Regions from separate parts of the Homo sapiens genome. Here region 2 is linked to region 1. A link means that fine-mapping ties the variant in region 1 to the expression of a gene that starts in the linked region. Tissue or cell type: skeletal muscle. Region 1 holds a variant in brackets; the other region holds the start of a gene. All regions are shown on one strand. Distances are from middle to middle.

The links. PIP is the estimated chance that this variant, and not a neighbour inherited with it, causes the effect.
Region 2: it holds the start of SULT1C4, and the variant in region 1 is the best candidate, but not a certain one, in a credible set for the expression of SULT1C4 in skeletal muscle (GTEx, PIP 0.64).

The regions. Positions count from the first base shown.
Region 1 is chr2:108,306,909-108,315,094 of GRCh38, forward strand. SULT1C2 (sulfotransferase family 1C member 2) reads left to right here. Exons shown (of 8, transcript NM_001056.4): 8 at 1,444-3,007. The coding sequence ends at 1,556. Among named protein-coding and RNA genes, the nearest start is that of SULT1C2, 22 kb to the left of the region's middle. The variant C/G (reference allele first, on the strand shown) is at 4,718.
Region 2 is chr2:108,374,434-108,382,619 of GRCh38, forward strand. It overlaps SULT1C4 (sulfotransferase family 1C member 4), which reads left to right and starts at 3,521. Exons shown (of 7, transcript NM_006588.4): 1 at 3,521-4,073; 2 at 7,329-7,454; 3 at 7,952-8,049. The coding sequence starts at 3,905.

The sequences.
Region 1 (8,186 bases):
TAAATAAATAAATAAAATCAGTATAAAATTATATTTTTTAAAAGTCTCTCCACAAAAACTCCACCCCCAAGAAGTAACTACCAACAGTATGGAAGTCCCTTTCTCTCTCATTTATAACATACAGATTTTTTATTCACAACAGTGAAATCATGGTATACACACTGCTTTGAAACATCTTTTCTTCTTCCTCTTTGATTTTGCATGTGCTTGAATTTATGTTGTTGCATTTTCCAATCTACAACAGTATTCCATACCAATGAAACAAACCAAAATATTCTACCCCTTTTCTCTTTGGATAACCAGTGGTAATGATTTGTCAAGGTGCCCTTCTTCAGGCTCATACATAACCATCTTTCTATACACCCTCCTTCTTCAGACTCACACAGACACAAAGATATGTAACCATAATGAAAGCTTGCTCCCTAAAATGCAGAATGGGGTCATATTTTATACCTTTACTTACCAGGATATGAGAAACCCCTCTAGGGCAAGGCATATAGACTCATACACCTCATTGATTTCTTTGGTCCCATGTTATACCAAGCGAAGGATGCATCATAATTCATCCAACTATTCCCTTAATGATAGACACTATAGTTATTATTGTTTTCAATGTTTGTTTTTATGCATAATGTTACAGTAAATATCTTTGTGCATAAATTATTTCCAGATGCTTTTATTTCTGTTGCATAATTTTCTGGAAGAGGTATTGGTGGGGAAAAGAGAATTTCCCCTGTTTAAAATTAGTTTAAGTTGTTGTTTGGTGAAAAATATTATCTCATTCATATTTTTCCAAAATAGTTTTTTATTGAGATATAATCAAAATACCAAAAATGCACAGATCTTAAGTATACAGTTCAACCCATTTTAATAAATGTATATACCCACACCACCCGCACCCCAATCAAGATATGAAACATTTTCATTACCCCAGAAAGTTCCCTCTTGTGCCCTTTTCAGTCAATGTCTACCTCCAGGGACAACCGTTTTTCCAATTTCTATTACTCTAGATTGATTTTGCCTGTTGCTGGACTTCACGTAAATGGAATTTCACAGTATTTACTTTCCTGTGTCTCGTGTCTTTTGCTCAACATAATGTTTTGAGATTCCTCCATGTGGTTGTGTGTCTGTAGTTCATCATTCTTTTATGTCTATGTAGTAATCCATCAGGTAAATACACTACAGGTGGGGCCAGGTCATGCAGGCCACTAGCTGCCTTGGGTCAGTTGTCCAGCTGACTTAGAAGTCCATCCCCCTGCACAGAGTCCCCTAGGCCTGCTTCTTATAGGAGAGCTGCTCATGGACAGGTGTCCACTGAAGGGGGAGTTGGGTGAGTCAGGTATGTGGACAGGCCAGATTCAGTATGGGCACTACACCACTTTACTCAGGGACACCACATCTTTCAATCAGAGTGACACTCCTGTCTGGCCTTCCTTTTTCTAGGAACTGTGGGGGATTGGAAAAACCACTTCACTGTTGCCCAGAATGAGAGGTTTGATGAAATCTATAGAAGAAAGATGGAAGGAACCTCCATAAACTTCTGCATGGAACTCTGAGCAAGATGTAAATAAAATTAAAAGGTGGATGGCAAGAGTGCAAATACTATCTTCAATCCTTCAGTCCCAGCCAGAAGAATCTCTGAAAGCATATTGTGAATGTATACAATGTAGTACAAACAATCTCTGTGATGATTAACAGTATGTCACCACTTCATTTTTTAAAAAGGATCACGTCTAATGCCCATTTTCCCAACTATTCTTTCCAAAGTAAGATATAAGGTAGCTTAATAAACTAAGTAAAACGTATGACTTGAGTACAAAAGGATTGTTTTAATCCCCATTATTCTGGAAAGTGCATCCTAGTCTCCCAGTCTATAACATCATAATACCTTGAGTATAAGTCCAAATATTAGGTTATATCTATATTAAAAACAAAATTTCTGTCATCTGTCCTGGCCATTCAGGCAACTCCAGCCTGGGCTCAATCCTGGAGTTCTGTCTGGTCACTATCAGAAGGAACACTTTGAGGGAAACCCTGGTGCAGCCAGCCCTGAGGAAACATGGCCTGAGTGCCCTCACTGGTGGGTGGGAATAAAATGGAAGTGCACAGAGGAGATGTCAGAAGACCAAAACTTGGTGAATAGTCCCAGTGCTAGGTCATATAGGAAACAGAAAGCATGACAGTGGCCTTTTGGGAACCCAAGTTACGTCCTGGTGAAAGCAGAAAGGAGGAGACAGGATGGCTGTCAACAACGTCAGCATGGGCATGGCTCCCAGGCATGGAGGTAATTGGGTCTTGGCTTCAATGCCACCCTTTTGGGAAGCCCTAAACCAAGTGAGGTGTTCTTTTCCCTTGCTTCCCATATTTGTCCCAGTTGCAGCCCTGTTGTTATGTATTTACTCTTCAATTTCTTATTTATACCTCTCACTCAATTGTTAATTCTTTGGGTTCAGTCTCATGCCATATTTACTCCTAGTACCTAATGCAGTGCCTGGCACACAGCAAGTGCCCTTGAGAACTTGTAGAGGGAGTAAAAAAGTGCATGGATAAATGACTGCAGCAAATCACAAATTTTGAACTTTGACCCTTTTCTTTTAGTCCCAAATAGTGGCATTCCATAGCTGAGGGTAGTAGGAGCAGTTCACCCTGGGAGCAGACAATAAGAGGAAGAATGAAGCCAACTAAAATTCTGAATGCTTTTTGTTGGATTTCGTAGGGTATTTTTTTTAAAATAGGGTCTTGCTATGTTGCCCAGGCTGGTCTTAACTGACTGCTTTTTATTATTACCATGCACTGGCAATTCCAAACAATGTCAGTGTTAAAATGCTTCTCCCTGAAAAAGAGAAAAAAAAAAGGAAAAAAAGAAAAGAAAAGTGAAAAGAAAAACTCTTATTGGCCTAAGTTCTAAATAATAGCTAGGTTACCACTGAGTTTTAACTATATGTATATGAGCTTCAAATAAGCACCTTTTTATTATGTAAATAAATAAAAGTTATCTGTATCCCCACTGCATTGTAAAATTTTTGTTGTTTTGTTTCATGTCTTATTCACCTTTGTATGGAAATTAATTCAGAAACCCCAAGCATAGAGTCTACCTCTTTAATTCCAGCAGGCAGATGTAGTTCTGCCTGCTTCCTTCCAAGGTTAAGTTCATAACAGTTCAGAATCTTGCAAGCTCACTTCAGGTATAACCTGTGTCTCCAACCCTGCAGTATTTGGATATTGCTGTTTAAACAGTAGATTTGGCATAGATGATGGTGGCACAATGGTTGTAAAGGAAAAGAAGCAGAACACCTCAGTTTGTTCAATTCTCTCATTGGGGTTTTCAGTTGTATCCAGAATTTAAAACAGTAAAATTTAAGAGTGTGAACAGCAACATTCACACTTTGTTTAGTAAGTACAAAGTTGTGCTCATACAGGAAGTTTACTGACTTTGAATAATAACTTTAAAAACAAAATTTACTCTTTTCTAAGTGTTAATTATTTGTTTTAAAATTTAAGAATGAATCAAGAAATAAAACATTACACCAGTGGTATGATTTAGTAATTGTCTGACTTATACTTTTTGTAGACATTTTAGTTTTATTTAAATTGGCATTCTGATTTTTTTACTGGTCTTGAGTCTATACACAAAAGTTGAATAAAAGAAAAGTTTCACTGACTACATTTCTTTACTATTATTATTACTTGTCTCTATTCATGATCAACACTGAAAATAATTTTGTTGTATACGGAAGTAATGTTGATATGGTTAGGCTGTGTCCCCACCCAAATTTCATCTTGAATTGTAGCTCCTATAATTCCCTCATGTTGTGGGAGGGACCCCGTGGGAGATCATTGAATCATTGAGGTGGTTTTCCCCATACTGTTCTCATGGTAGTGAATAAGATGTGATGATTTTATAAGGGGTTTCCTCTTTCACTTGGCTCTCATTATCTCTTGTCTGTCACCAGGTAAGACATGCCTTTTCACCTTCTGCCATGAATATGAGGCCTCCTCAGCCACATGGAACTGTAAGTCCATTAAACCTCTTTTTCTTTATAATTTACCCAGTCTTGGGTATGTCTTTATCAGCAGTGTGAAAATAGACTAATAAAGTAAACTGATACTGGTAGAGTGGGGTGCTGCCATAAAGATACCCAAAAATGTGGAAGTTGCTTTGGAACCTGGTAACAGGCAGAGGTTGGAACAGTTTGGAGGGCTCAGAAGAAGACAGGAAAATGTGGGAAAGTTTGGGACTTCCCAGAGACTTGTTGAATGGCTTTGACCAAAGTGCTTATAATAATATGGACAATGAAATCCATGCTGAGGTGGTCTCAGATGGAGATGAGGAACTTGTTGGGAACTGGAGTAAAGGTGACCCTTGCTATGTTTTAGGAAAGAGAATGGTGTCATTTTTTCCACGCCCTAGAGATTTGTGGAACTTTGAACTTGAGGGAGATGATTTAGGGTATCTAGTGAAATAAATTTCTAAGCAGGAAAGCATTCAAGAGGTGACTTGGGTGCTGTTAAGAGCATTCCATTTTAAAAGGAAAACACAGCATAAAAGTTCAGAAAATTTGCAGCCTGACAATTCACTAGAAAAGAAAAACCCATTTTCTAGGGAGAATTTCAAACCAGCTACAGAAATTTGCGTAAATAACAAGGAGCCAAATCTTAATCACCAAGACAATGGGGAAAATATCTCCAGGCCATGTCAGAGACCTTCATGGCAGCC[C/G]CTCCCATCATAGGCCCAGAGGCCTAGGAGGAAAAGATGGTTCCATGGGCTGGGCCCAGGGCCTTCCCTGCTGTGTGCACCCTAGGGACTTGGTGTCCTGTATCTCAGCCACTCCGGCCATGGCTGAAAGAGGCCAACGTAGAGCTCAGGCCATGGCTTCAGAGGGTGCAAGCCCCAAGCCTTGGCAGCTTCCATGTGGCATTGAGCCTGCAGGTGCATGGAAGTCAATAACTGAGGTTTGGGAACCTCCACCTAGATTTCAGAGGATGTATGGAAATGCCTGGATGTCCAGGCAGAAGTTTGCTGCAGGGGAGGGCTCCTCATGGAGAACCACCTCTAGGCCAGTGCAGAAGAGAAATGTGGGGTTGAAGCCCCCACAAAGAGTCCCCACTGGGACACTGCCTAGTGGAACCATGAGAAGAGGGCCACCATCCTCCAGACCCTAGAATGGTAGGTCCACCGACAGCTTGCACAGTGCACCTGGAAAAACCACAGGAACTCAATGTCAGCCTGTGAAAGCAGCCTGGAGGGAGGCTGTACCCTGCAAAGCCAAAGGGGCAGAGCTGCCCAAGACCACGGGAACCCACCTCTTGCATCAGAGTGACCTGGATGTGAACATGTAGTCAAAGGAGACCATTTTGGAGCTTTAAGATTTGACTGCCCCACTGGATTTCAGACTTGCATGCAGCCTATAGCCCCTTTGTTTTAGCCAATTTCTCCAATTTGGAATGGCTATATTTACCCAATGCCTGTACCCCTACTGTAGCTAGGAAGTAACTAACTTGCTTTTGATTTTAAGGCTCATGGGTGAAAGGTACTTGCCTTGTCTCAGATGAGGCTTTGGACTATGGACTTTTGAGTTAATGCTGAAATGAGTTAAGACTTTGGGGAACTGTTGGGAAGGCATGATTGGTTTTGAAATGTGAGGACATGAGATATGGGAGGGGGCAGGGGAGGAATGATATGGTTTGGCTGTGTCCTCACATAAATCTCACCTTGAATTGTAGCTCCCATAATTCCCACGTGTTGGGGGGAGGGGACTGGTGGGAGATAATTGAATCATGGTGCAGTTCCCCCATACCATTCTCTTGGTAGTGAATATGCCTCATGAGATCTGATGATTTTATTAGGGGTTTCCCCTTTCAATTGGCTCTCATTTTCTCTTGTCTGCTGCCACGTAAGACATGCCTTTCACCTTCCACCATGCTTGTGAATCCTCCCGCCTCAGTTTCCCAAAGCACTGGGATTACAGGCATGAGCCACTGTGCCTGGTCTTTTTCATTTTAATTGCAGACACAGTTCTTTAGTACTTGCATGCTTGTGAGGCCTCCAAAGCCATGTGGAAATGTAAGTCCATTGAACTCTTTTCTTTATAATTTACCCAGTCTTGGGTATGTCTTTATCAGCAGCATGAAAATGGACTAATATAAAGATAGTTAAAAAAAAAAAAAAACATTCACTCCAGGGTCAGCTATGATCCCAAATGATAAAATGAGTTCTGACTTTTAATTGGTTGGTTGGTTGGTGGGTTGGTGGTTGGTTGGTTGATTGGTTGGTCCTGTTAAAGAAAAAATTATTCAATGACACTTATTAAAGCACAGTAGGGCAGATTTTAGTCAGGACCATCTCCATAGGTGTAGGGACCATGGCAATGGAGTCTGGCAGTGGAAGAGATTGTGTTCGACTCTTAATATAACGTGGGCAAGTGGGAATTTATAGCCATGCAGAAGGGTGGAGAAGGAGGGATAGAAAATCCCTAAGAGGAAACATCATCGGTAAGGAAAGGGATGGGTTCTGGCTACAGTGATCCAACAGGATTCTTGCTAAAGATAGGCCAGGGTGATTAGATATTACCTGGGTGGTGGTGGAGGATGAAGAACCTGATCAGATGTTGGGGGTAGGGAGTTCCTGCTATATTGACTTAATAGTTTTCTTGCAAAAACTGGATTTTTCAAAGAATTACACAGAGGGGTATAGGAGATATGTTAAGAACCTTACTAAAGTTTGGTCAAGAAAATAATCTTTGTCATTTGGTTTAAACTCTTTCTGCTTCCTTTTCTTCACTAGCTAGGACCTAAACATGCCGACTTTGAGGTTTAGTATTTCAAAGAGCTTTGAAGTTTAATGCTGTGAGATTACATGGGACTGTGAGTTTTTCAAACACCCACAAATCACATTTAAATTCAGGCTTCCAACAACCAGTAGAAACTACATGGCAACTGGAACACGTTAGAATCAGGGTCAAGAATGAAAAGCCACCATGATGGTAAAGCACAGTGTTTTGCAACTCGACCAGTTGTCCACAACTCAAGCAAGGAGGGACCAATCTAACAAGAACAGAGATGCAAGAAATAGAACTAGCCCCAGGAAATTCAGTATTCAAGCTAAGATGCAAAGAGCCCTAGCACACCCTCTCCCCACATATACCTGCACCATAAGTATGTACCAACAGCTAAAAAGAAATGATTTTATGTTTCTTTCCTCTTAAGAGTTACAGCCATTCTTCATTCAGTCATTCATTCATTCTCAATAGTACACGTACTATGTGCCAGGTACTGTGTGAATGATGGGGATACAGTGGTGAGCAAAGCCCTTCCCCTATGGATTTCATGGTCTAGCATGTGAAGCAAAAGTCCACTAAGTCGTGACACATGTCACCAACCGAGGAGAGTGCCATGTGAGATGGTTTCAGGCTTCGAGAGGCCAGAGCAGATCAGCTGAGACTGGGGCCTGAGGCACAGCTTTCCTGAGAGGACATGGTCCTTCCTAGGTGTGAAGCATGTGCTGGCTTTAACTAGGCAAGAGACTGGGCAGAGAGAAGGAGACCCAGGAGCAGGCTTGGTGAGGCGGGCCTGTCTCAGGGCAAGAAGGAAGGGCTATGAGGGGAAGAGCTACAAGCTCAGGGAGAACTGACAAAATGGGGCCCCAAAGAGAGCCGGGCATGTCACATGGGGCCTTGATGGTCATGGCAGAATGTTAGACTTTATCCTAGGAGCATCAGGAAGCCCCTGCAGGCTCCAAGATAGATGGTGAAACACTCAGACTACCATGTCAATATGTCTACTGTGTCTGTGCCATACACACAGCACAAGGGTGGGAGCCACACTGTTCCAGTTGAGAGGGCTGGGAATTGTTCATGGGTGTGGAGACTTCCAGGGTTAAGGGTTAAGGGAACCTCCTCCCTCAGCCTCTCACACCTGGTTACAAAAGCAGGAAGTAGAATTTCAGGTTGACCAGCAGGATACTCACTCCTTATTAAAAAAAAAAAAAAATTTAAGACAAAGTCTCACTCTGTTGCCCAGGCTGGAGTGTAGTGTCACAATCGTGGCTCACTGCAGCCTCAACCTCCTAGGTTCAAGCAATCCTCCCAGCTCAGCATCCTGAGTTGCTAGCACCACAGATGTGTACCATCATACCTGGCTAATTTTTATTTCTTACTCTTTGTAGAGACGGGGTCTCACTATGTTGC
Region 2 (8,186 bases), 68 kb after region 1:
AAATGCATGTACTAAAAATTAATTCACTGTTTATCTAAAATTCAAATTTAACTGGGCATCCTGTATCTATATTTGCTACAGCTGGAAGCTCTACATGACCCAGCATTTGACACAGCTTTTCATTTTTCTGAGAATGTAAGGGGTTCTTAGGTTATGTTTTAAGGAATTGTCTGAAATTATAGATTGCCTACATCCTTGCTTCATCTCACTAAGTGCTTACAGTTACCTCCAACCTCTGAAGCTGATTAAAGTATTATAGCAAAGAGTAATATAATTCATTTGAGTTTCATTTTCTCCCTACTCAGCTCCTGGAATAGTGTACTGCAAACAGAATGGCCTTAAGGCCATCTAAATAGAGGAAGGGGGAAAAGAAGTTATGAATAAACCATATTTATCAATATCTGAACAATCTGGATTTGATTCCAGTTTTAATTATGTGGACTTGTTAGTTCTTCCTCTTGCTTCGGTTTCAAGTATTGAACAACAAATAAGTCATTTACAATACCTCTAAGCTAAATATTGATTCAAAGAACAAAGACCATTACAATTCAACTTTTTCAACACAGGCTTAGCTCACTCTCCAATGGGTATCTTTTTTTTTTTTGAGACCGAGTCTCGCTCTGTCACCCAGGCTGGAGTGCAGTGGTGCAGTCTCAGCTCACTGCAAACTCCACCTCCAGGGTTCAAGTGATTCTCCTGCCTCAACCTCCTGAGTAGTTGGGATTCCAGGCATGCACCATCACGCCTGGCTAATTTTTCTATTTTTAGTAGAGTCAGGGTTTCGCCATGTTGGCCTGGCTAGTCTCAAACTCCTGACCTCAGGTGATCTGCCCACCCTGGCCTCCCAAATGCTAGGATTACAGGCATGAGCCATCGCGCCTGGCCGGGTGTGTTTTAAAACAGTGTGCCGAGTCAAAACGTCTTTTAGACATATTCCTTTTTTTTAATTTTATTTATTTATTTTTTTTTTTGAGATGGAGTCTCACTCTGTTGCCCAGGCTGGAATGCAGTGGTGCGATCTTGGCTCACTGCAAGTTCCGCCTCCTGGGTTCATGCCATTCTCCTGCCTCAGCCTCCCGACTAGCTGGGACTACAGGCACCTGCCACCATATCCGGCTAATTTTTTGTATTTTTAGTAGAGACGGGGTTTCACCGTGTTAGCCAGGATGGTCTCAATCTCCTGACCTCGTGATCCACCTGCCTCGGCCTCCCAAAGTGCTGGGATTACAGGCATGAGCCACCATGCCCTGCCTACATATTCCTTTCGTAAAAAGCAAACAAACAGAGACCTGTTTAAGGGTAGTAACCAGCATGCTGGATTTTACTAACAAAAAAAGAGTTTGGAAACCCCAGTTACAAATTTTGCAAATGAATCACATTTGAGGCCTGAACAAGTTAGTAGTTTGCAAAAAGGACATCTAAAGCGCGTTAAGAGTTGGAATCTCCTCTCCATGCTCAGAAGCAAACAGTGACAGAGTTGAAAGGGAGGTTCAGGGAAGAATTAGAGGGGGAGAGTATATTAGCTTTATCTTGGGTACCCAATATATCCCAAGATTATAGGATACCTTATTTACATCCAACATTACATTAACCCTGTGAGATTAATAAAAAACGAAAGGCTCAGAAGAGATAAGTATTAGAAAAGTTACACAGCTATTAGGGGGCAGTTTAAATTCAAACCCATATATTTAGAATTCCAAAGCAATGCTTGTCAAATATAGACTTAGCACCAACTTTATTCTTATAATCACTAAATATATTTATTTAATTCTCCTAACCTCATGAGAAAGTACTATTGAGTAAAAACATTAAGTGAGAATAAGAGCAGTGTTTGTAGTCAAGATCACTTTTCAAATTATTTGGAACTTCCCATCTTCCCTGGATCTATTTTCAATCCCAGTCAGTCATCTTTGGGTCCAGAAGCATATCCTCCCCCATCTCCCAGCCCTCCCCCTCTAGCACACAACGCACTGGAGAAAACTGCTAAGGCATTGCTGAATATCTACCACTCTACTCTGATGGCACACAGGGCCAAAAAGATTATAGAATAAAATCTAACTGAAAAATTATAGGTGATTTTTATAAGTCTGTTTAAATGCATATGCATCCCAGGCATTCCACCTGGCAGTCTCTGTCTCAAGGGCCCATCCACCTCACCATGGTCTGGAGGGAGGGGATGAGGAATAGGGAAAGCCAAAGAATTGATCTTTTCTGAGTTTGCATCCAGAACATGGGCCACAGAGAAATGGTGAACAAAGTCACCCATTATTATTAACAGCTATGATTTATTCAACATTTCCCTGTTGCCAAGCATTAAATAAGCTGTTTTATCTCCCCACAACCATGAGGTAGATAATGTTAAGATCCCCAATTCAGACCTGAGGAAAAGCGTGATATGAAACAGAGAAAGATTCTGTAACCTGCCATTGCCCACAGCTACTGGGACTTGGCACAGGGTTCAAATACAGGCAGCCTGACTTCTCTCTGAAGGATGTCAAGCCACAGCCACCATACTCACCTAGTCCCCACATAATGATGGCCCAAGGAACTCGCTTCCTCAATTTTTGCTTAGTTTTACTCATTCATTCTTTCGAGAAATAGAAGAATGCCAGACACTAGGCATACAGCTATCAAACAGTGAGAAAACAACAGGCCCCATTTCATGTGCCTTAGAGTGTAGTGAAGGAGACAGAAAATGCCAACAAGTAAACACGCAAAAACTAACTGTCAATGGTTGCTCTAAAGGAACACAAAGTGCCATGAGCAAGGAAATAGGAGGGACCTACTTGAGATGACATAGAAAGTCAAAGAAGGCTTCTCCAGAAAGGGGGCATCAAAGCTGGGACACGAAGAAAGAGAATCAGACAGCCAGACACACAAGAGCCGACAAGATCTCCAGAAGGAGTGCTGCCATGGGGAGCAAGTGTGGCATGGCCCTGGGGTGCAGGCCAGGCCGGGGGCAGGGACTGAAGCAAGTTGTGAAATTTCTGATTATCAGGGGCAGAATGGATTCCTAAGGCAGCCACTGTCTTCTGTTAACTCTGGAGTTTTCTGCATCCCTTTTGCTTTAAATGAGGCATACATGTTTTCATAGCTGTGATGAAACCCCTACAATTCTCCAGTTTAGCATTATTTATTTTACTCTTAAAAAATAACAAAGCTGACCCTGGCAGATGTTTGTACTGGGAGATTCAGATCCATCCAGGCCCCCACTGTTAATAGCCCACGGGAAAGTCCCTGCAGTCTCTCAGGGAAGTCATTCTGTGTAGAATCTGTAATTTCACAGGCAAGTCCTGCAACTTTTTAATTGTTTAAAATTCCCAGAAGGAATAATTACTGAAATTATCTATGAAGGGTTTAATGGACACAGACATGAGAGCTATAAACAATGTGATACTATGTCCTGTTAACTCACAGAGAACGGAAGGGCTGGAACGGGACCCAGCCAGCAGGGTTTGTGACCGCCTCTGCTGTGACGTCACAGCCTGGTGAGGAGGGGGCTGCAGTTCCTCAGGAAACTGCCAGTGGACAAATTCATAAACAAGAGCTCCAGTTCCCTGGAACCTGAGTCGGGAGACCTGCAGCTCACTTTCTCCCTGTTTGCTGGCCAGCAGGGTTTGTGGCCGCCTCTGCTGTGACGCCACAGCCTGGTGAGGAGGGGGCTGCAGTTCCTCAGGAAACTGCCAGTGGACAAAGTCATAAACAAGAGTTCCAGTTCCCTGGAACCTGAGTCGGGAGGCCTGCAACTCACTTTCTCCCTGTTTGCTGGCCCAGACAGGCCTGTGCTAGAGGGCTGGATAGTGTGGTAGTGTGGTGGATAGAGTGCTGCCTCTATCCACAACGCAGCCATATGCTGACTGAAGATAACTTTGTGTCTGGAAGAGCCCTCTGATTTCTTACACTAATGGCCTTACACGACATGGAGGATTTTACATTTGATGGAACAAAGCGCTTAAGTGTCAACTACGTGAAGGGAATTCTTCAACCGACAGACACCTGTGACATCTGGGATAAGATCTGGAACTTCCAAGCCAAGCCTGATGACCTGCTTATTTCTACCTATCCTAAAGCAGGTAGGTGGAAGGGCTTGCAGGGGAAGGGGAAGAGGAGAGTTAGGAAGGTAAGTGGAAGTATGCATTAGTCATGAAATAAAGAAGTTGATCTGGAAAACTCTGGACAGAGTGATATGGCTAAGGAAAGTTACTAGTGGAAACTGAAGCTATACCGAAACATACTAAAATGACATACAAATTTTTAGAATTCAATCTTCCTATGATACTATGATGTACTTCCTTTTTTTTTTTTTTTCACTTTCCCAGGAGAGAGTGAAAACAGTTAAGAGCAAAAGGGTAGACTTGTTTATTTATTCATTCCCAATCTAGGCCCTTATTGTAGATCTTGTAAAAAGCTGCTTTGAGTGTGTGAGCTAGAAAGGTGATCCTGAGTCTGATTTGGGAAAGAAATAGGGGAGCTTTGGTTCTGCAATGCTGATATCACCTCAGCAGCCCTCCCATCTCAGGGTCTGAGAACCATCCTTCTGATTTCCACCTTCCTTTGTGGTAAGTTTTGAACCAACTGCCTTATCTCAACAATCAGTTTAACAAAGTTGTCTGTAAAAGTAGGACTAGCTTAAGCCGAGCCACCACGTCATAAAAATTGGGTGATGATGAGGTGGAAATAGTTCTCTATAAATATTTTTGCATATCTACATATCTACTAGAAATACATTACTGGGTCCACACACAAATTGTATATACATTTGCTCTTTGCAAAATCAAGCTGTCAAAAACTCTTGTTATACACACACAAACACACACACATCAAAAAATCTAAACCTCAGTATTTTCTGAGACTGTTCAAAATCCTCTTTTGTTCTTATCTCTCAAGATCCTGACAGAAGATTCTGCAGGCACATGGAGGCCTTGGTCTCTTCTTTGTCCATCTGTTTCATTTTGGTCCTGATTTCCCAATCTTACTCATCAGGAGCCCATTCAGGATCAAATTTTTCTGAATGTAAATTTCTAAAAGTAGCCACTGGTGAGGATCACATCTCATCATCTTAATTTCATTGACAATTCCACTTGATTATCAATTCAATACATAAATAATCTTTTCTCTATCTGCCAAACGCAAGTACAAAGATATGGTTCATTTAGGTTTTTCATGGCATTAATGAGGTTTAAGCAATTCAAAAAGCACACTAAGAAAATTAAATACTTGCCATCTAAAGTAATATTTAATCATAACTAAAACCATATACATTAATGAAGGCTATTTTATTAGAAGGAAGAAGAAACAAGCATAGATGGCAAAAATAGTTCACCCTAAATTTTTAAAAGAATAATACTCTGAATGACACAAGAAAAAAATACATCATAGAATCACTGGCCTCTAGAGAATAAATTGAGAAGTCATTCCACTCACCCCGGAGCCTCTAGCAACATTTGAATCTGCCCTCATGTTGGCTCATGTCTATAAATTCATTCAATTCATTCATTATAGACATTCAGTGTTATGGCTATAAATTCCCATAAAACTAGTACAAATGGCTGGACTATTCTTTGCATGGATAGCTAAAGATATCTTGGCCCTTTGTCCTGTAATAAAAGTTGCTGCCAGAAAATACAGGAGACCAACTACTATAAAATATAAAATGTAATTTAATTTTTTTCTAACCTATGCCCTTATTCTAGGCCTTTAAAAGCACTAAATTGAGAATATGGGAAAAGGAATCTATAGAGTTTCGGCCAGATAATACAGGAAAGATCAACCTAGATCAGGATTCAGAAAGCCATCCTGGCTAGGCATGGTGGCTCACACCTGTAATCCCATCACTTTGGGAGGCCAAGACAGGGGGATCTTTTGAGGCTAGAAGATTGAGACCAGCCTGGGCAACATAGGGAGACTCCTATGTACAAAAAAAAAATAAAAATTAGCCAGGCATGGTGGTGTGCACTCACAGTCCTAGCTATTTGGGAGGTTGAAGCAAGAGGACCATTGAGCCCAGGAGTTGGAGGCTGCACTGAGCTAGGATCCCACCACTGTACTCCAGCCTGGGCAACAGAGCAAGACCCTGTCTCTGGAAAAATAAAAAATAAAAAAAGCCATCCTAAAATAACTCAACATCCTCCTAACCTGGATTTTGCCAGAACATCTGGTGCAACAGATCTTCATCAAAGGGTGAAGATTATGTTGATAGCACAATATCACTGTATCAGTCAGGATCAGTGCAAGACACAGACAGACTGAAGCTGGGGGATACCATTCTACCTATGGCCACAGTGGCAGTGGTTGGGTCTAGGGCACTGGGCCATGGAACGTGGAATGGTCTCTGCAAAATTTCTATCTGCTGGGGCTACTATCAGCAGCCACCACCTCAGGAAGGATGACTTCTATCTCCCCACTGCCTTCCAAAACTCAGGCTAATGCATCTCACTGGAGGGATCTAAATAGCCTTCAGAATCTTAGTGGCAAAGGAGTTTAGGGAAGGCCTTTTACAGCCTTTCAGCCCATGAGATATGGGGGAAACAGAGAAAGGCGAAAAATTGAATACTAAGTGCTAATGGTCAATATCAAGTTCAAGCCCTAATGGTTCACTCATTCAGCCAACAAATACTAAGTGTCTCCTACGCTATGCAACTGGGAAAAAGAGAGTTTGAAAATCATGTAGTCATTTCTCTATAGCAGATCACAATTTGGGGAGAATGTCCTTTCTAAGGACAATACAGCTAAATAAATAGAACAATAATAACAATCCAAATTAATAGTTGTGACAGAAAAAAATAAATGTATATTTATCAGTCTAATGTCCATTCAAAATTGGAGTATTTTTTTAAAATCATATTATGATAATAAGATATAAATAAGGAATGCTATCTTCTGAATCCCATTTAAAACCTAGCTTTTAAATTCACATAGATGGTCCAGGCATGGTGGCTCACACCTATAATCCCAGCATTTTAGGAGGCCGAGGCGAGCAGATCACTTGCAAGCAGATCACTTGAGCTCAGGAGTTCCAGATCAGCCTGGGCAACATGGTAAAATGCCGTCTCTACAAAAAGTATAAAAATTAGCCAGGGGTGATTGTGTATGCATGTAACCCCTGCTACTCAGGAGGCTGAGGCGAGAGGATCGCTTGAACCCAGGAGGCAGTGAGCCAAGATTGCACCATTGAACTCCAGCCTTGATACAGAGCAAGACCCTGTCTCAAAAAACAAAACAAAACAAAACAAAACAAAAGACATAGATGTTCTAACAAGTATTTGATCATATTTTAAGGAATGTACTATACTAGATGTCTATTCATCTTCATTTTACGTGCACGTAAGGAACAACATGGACTCAGGAGATAGTGGAATTAATACAAAATGAAGGTGATGTGGAGAAAAGTAAACGGGCACCGACTCATCAACGATTTCCTTTCCTCGAAATGAAAATCCCATCCTTAGGATCTGGTGAGTATAAATAGCCACACTTCACTACAGTCCTAAAATGCACTTAGGATTTTTACTGTCTTTGCACCTTTCGAAATTATAGGCTTTCAAACAATTATTGGTAAGTTTCATGGTTTTGTCTTTTTTTAACTGTGTCTGGCCATTGTTATACTCCAGACATTTTCTAATGGAATTACTGTTTGTACAAAAGTGAGTTAAATTTTGTTTCTCTAGTTAGAAATTAATTTTACTTCAAAAGAATAAGCTCAAGTAAGATAATCCTGGTGAAAGGGTTTGAATTTTTTAGGTTCTTATTTATTTGGATGACTGTTATGGTTAGGAATTGTTCTAGTCAAAACATCTATTCATAGGCTAGACGTATTCTCTCACACCAGATCTACAGTTACAATGTTCTTATAGATGCTTTGAATTGTAGTAGTAATAATGGAAGCAGCAAGACTTGGAAGCAAATAGATAAAAAAAAAATCGTAGAAATTGATCGAAAACCAGTTTTGCAGGTTTGGAACAAGCTCATGCAATGCCCTCACCACGGATCCTGAAAACACATCTTCCCTTTCACTTGCTGCCACCATCCTTGCTAGAGAAAAACTGTAAGGTAAAAAAGCAAAAGGAATTCAGAGTTGTACTCCTTAAAACAACCTTAGTCTTCCATTTCCTCTTAAAACACTTCACTTGTTAAATATATATATATATACCTCTTCACAATAATCAATATGCAAATTAATATGAATC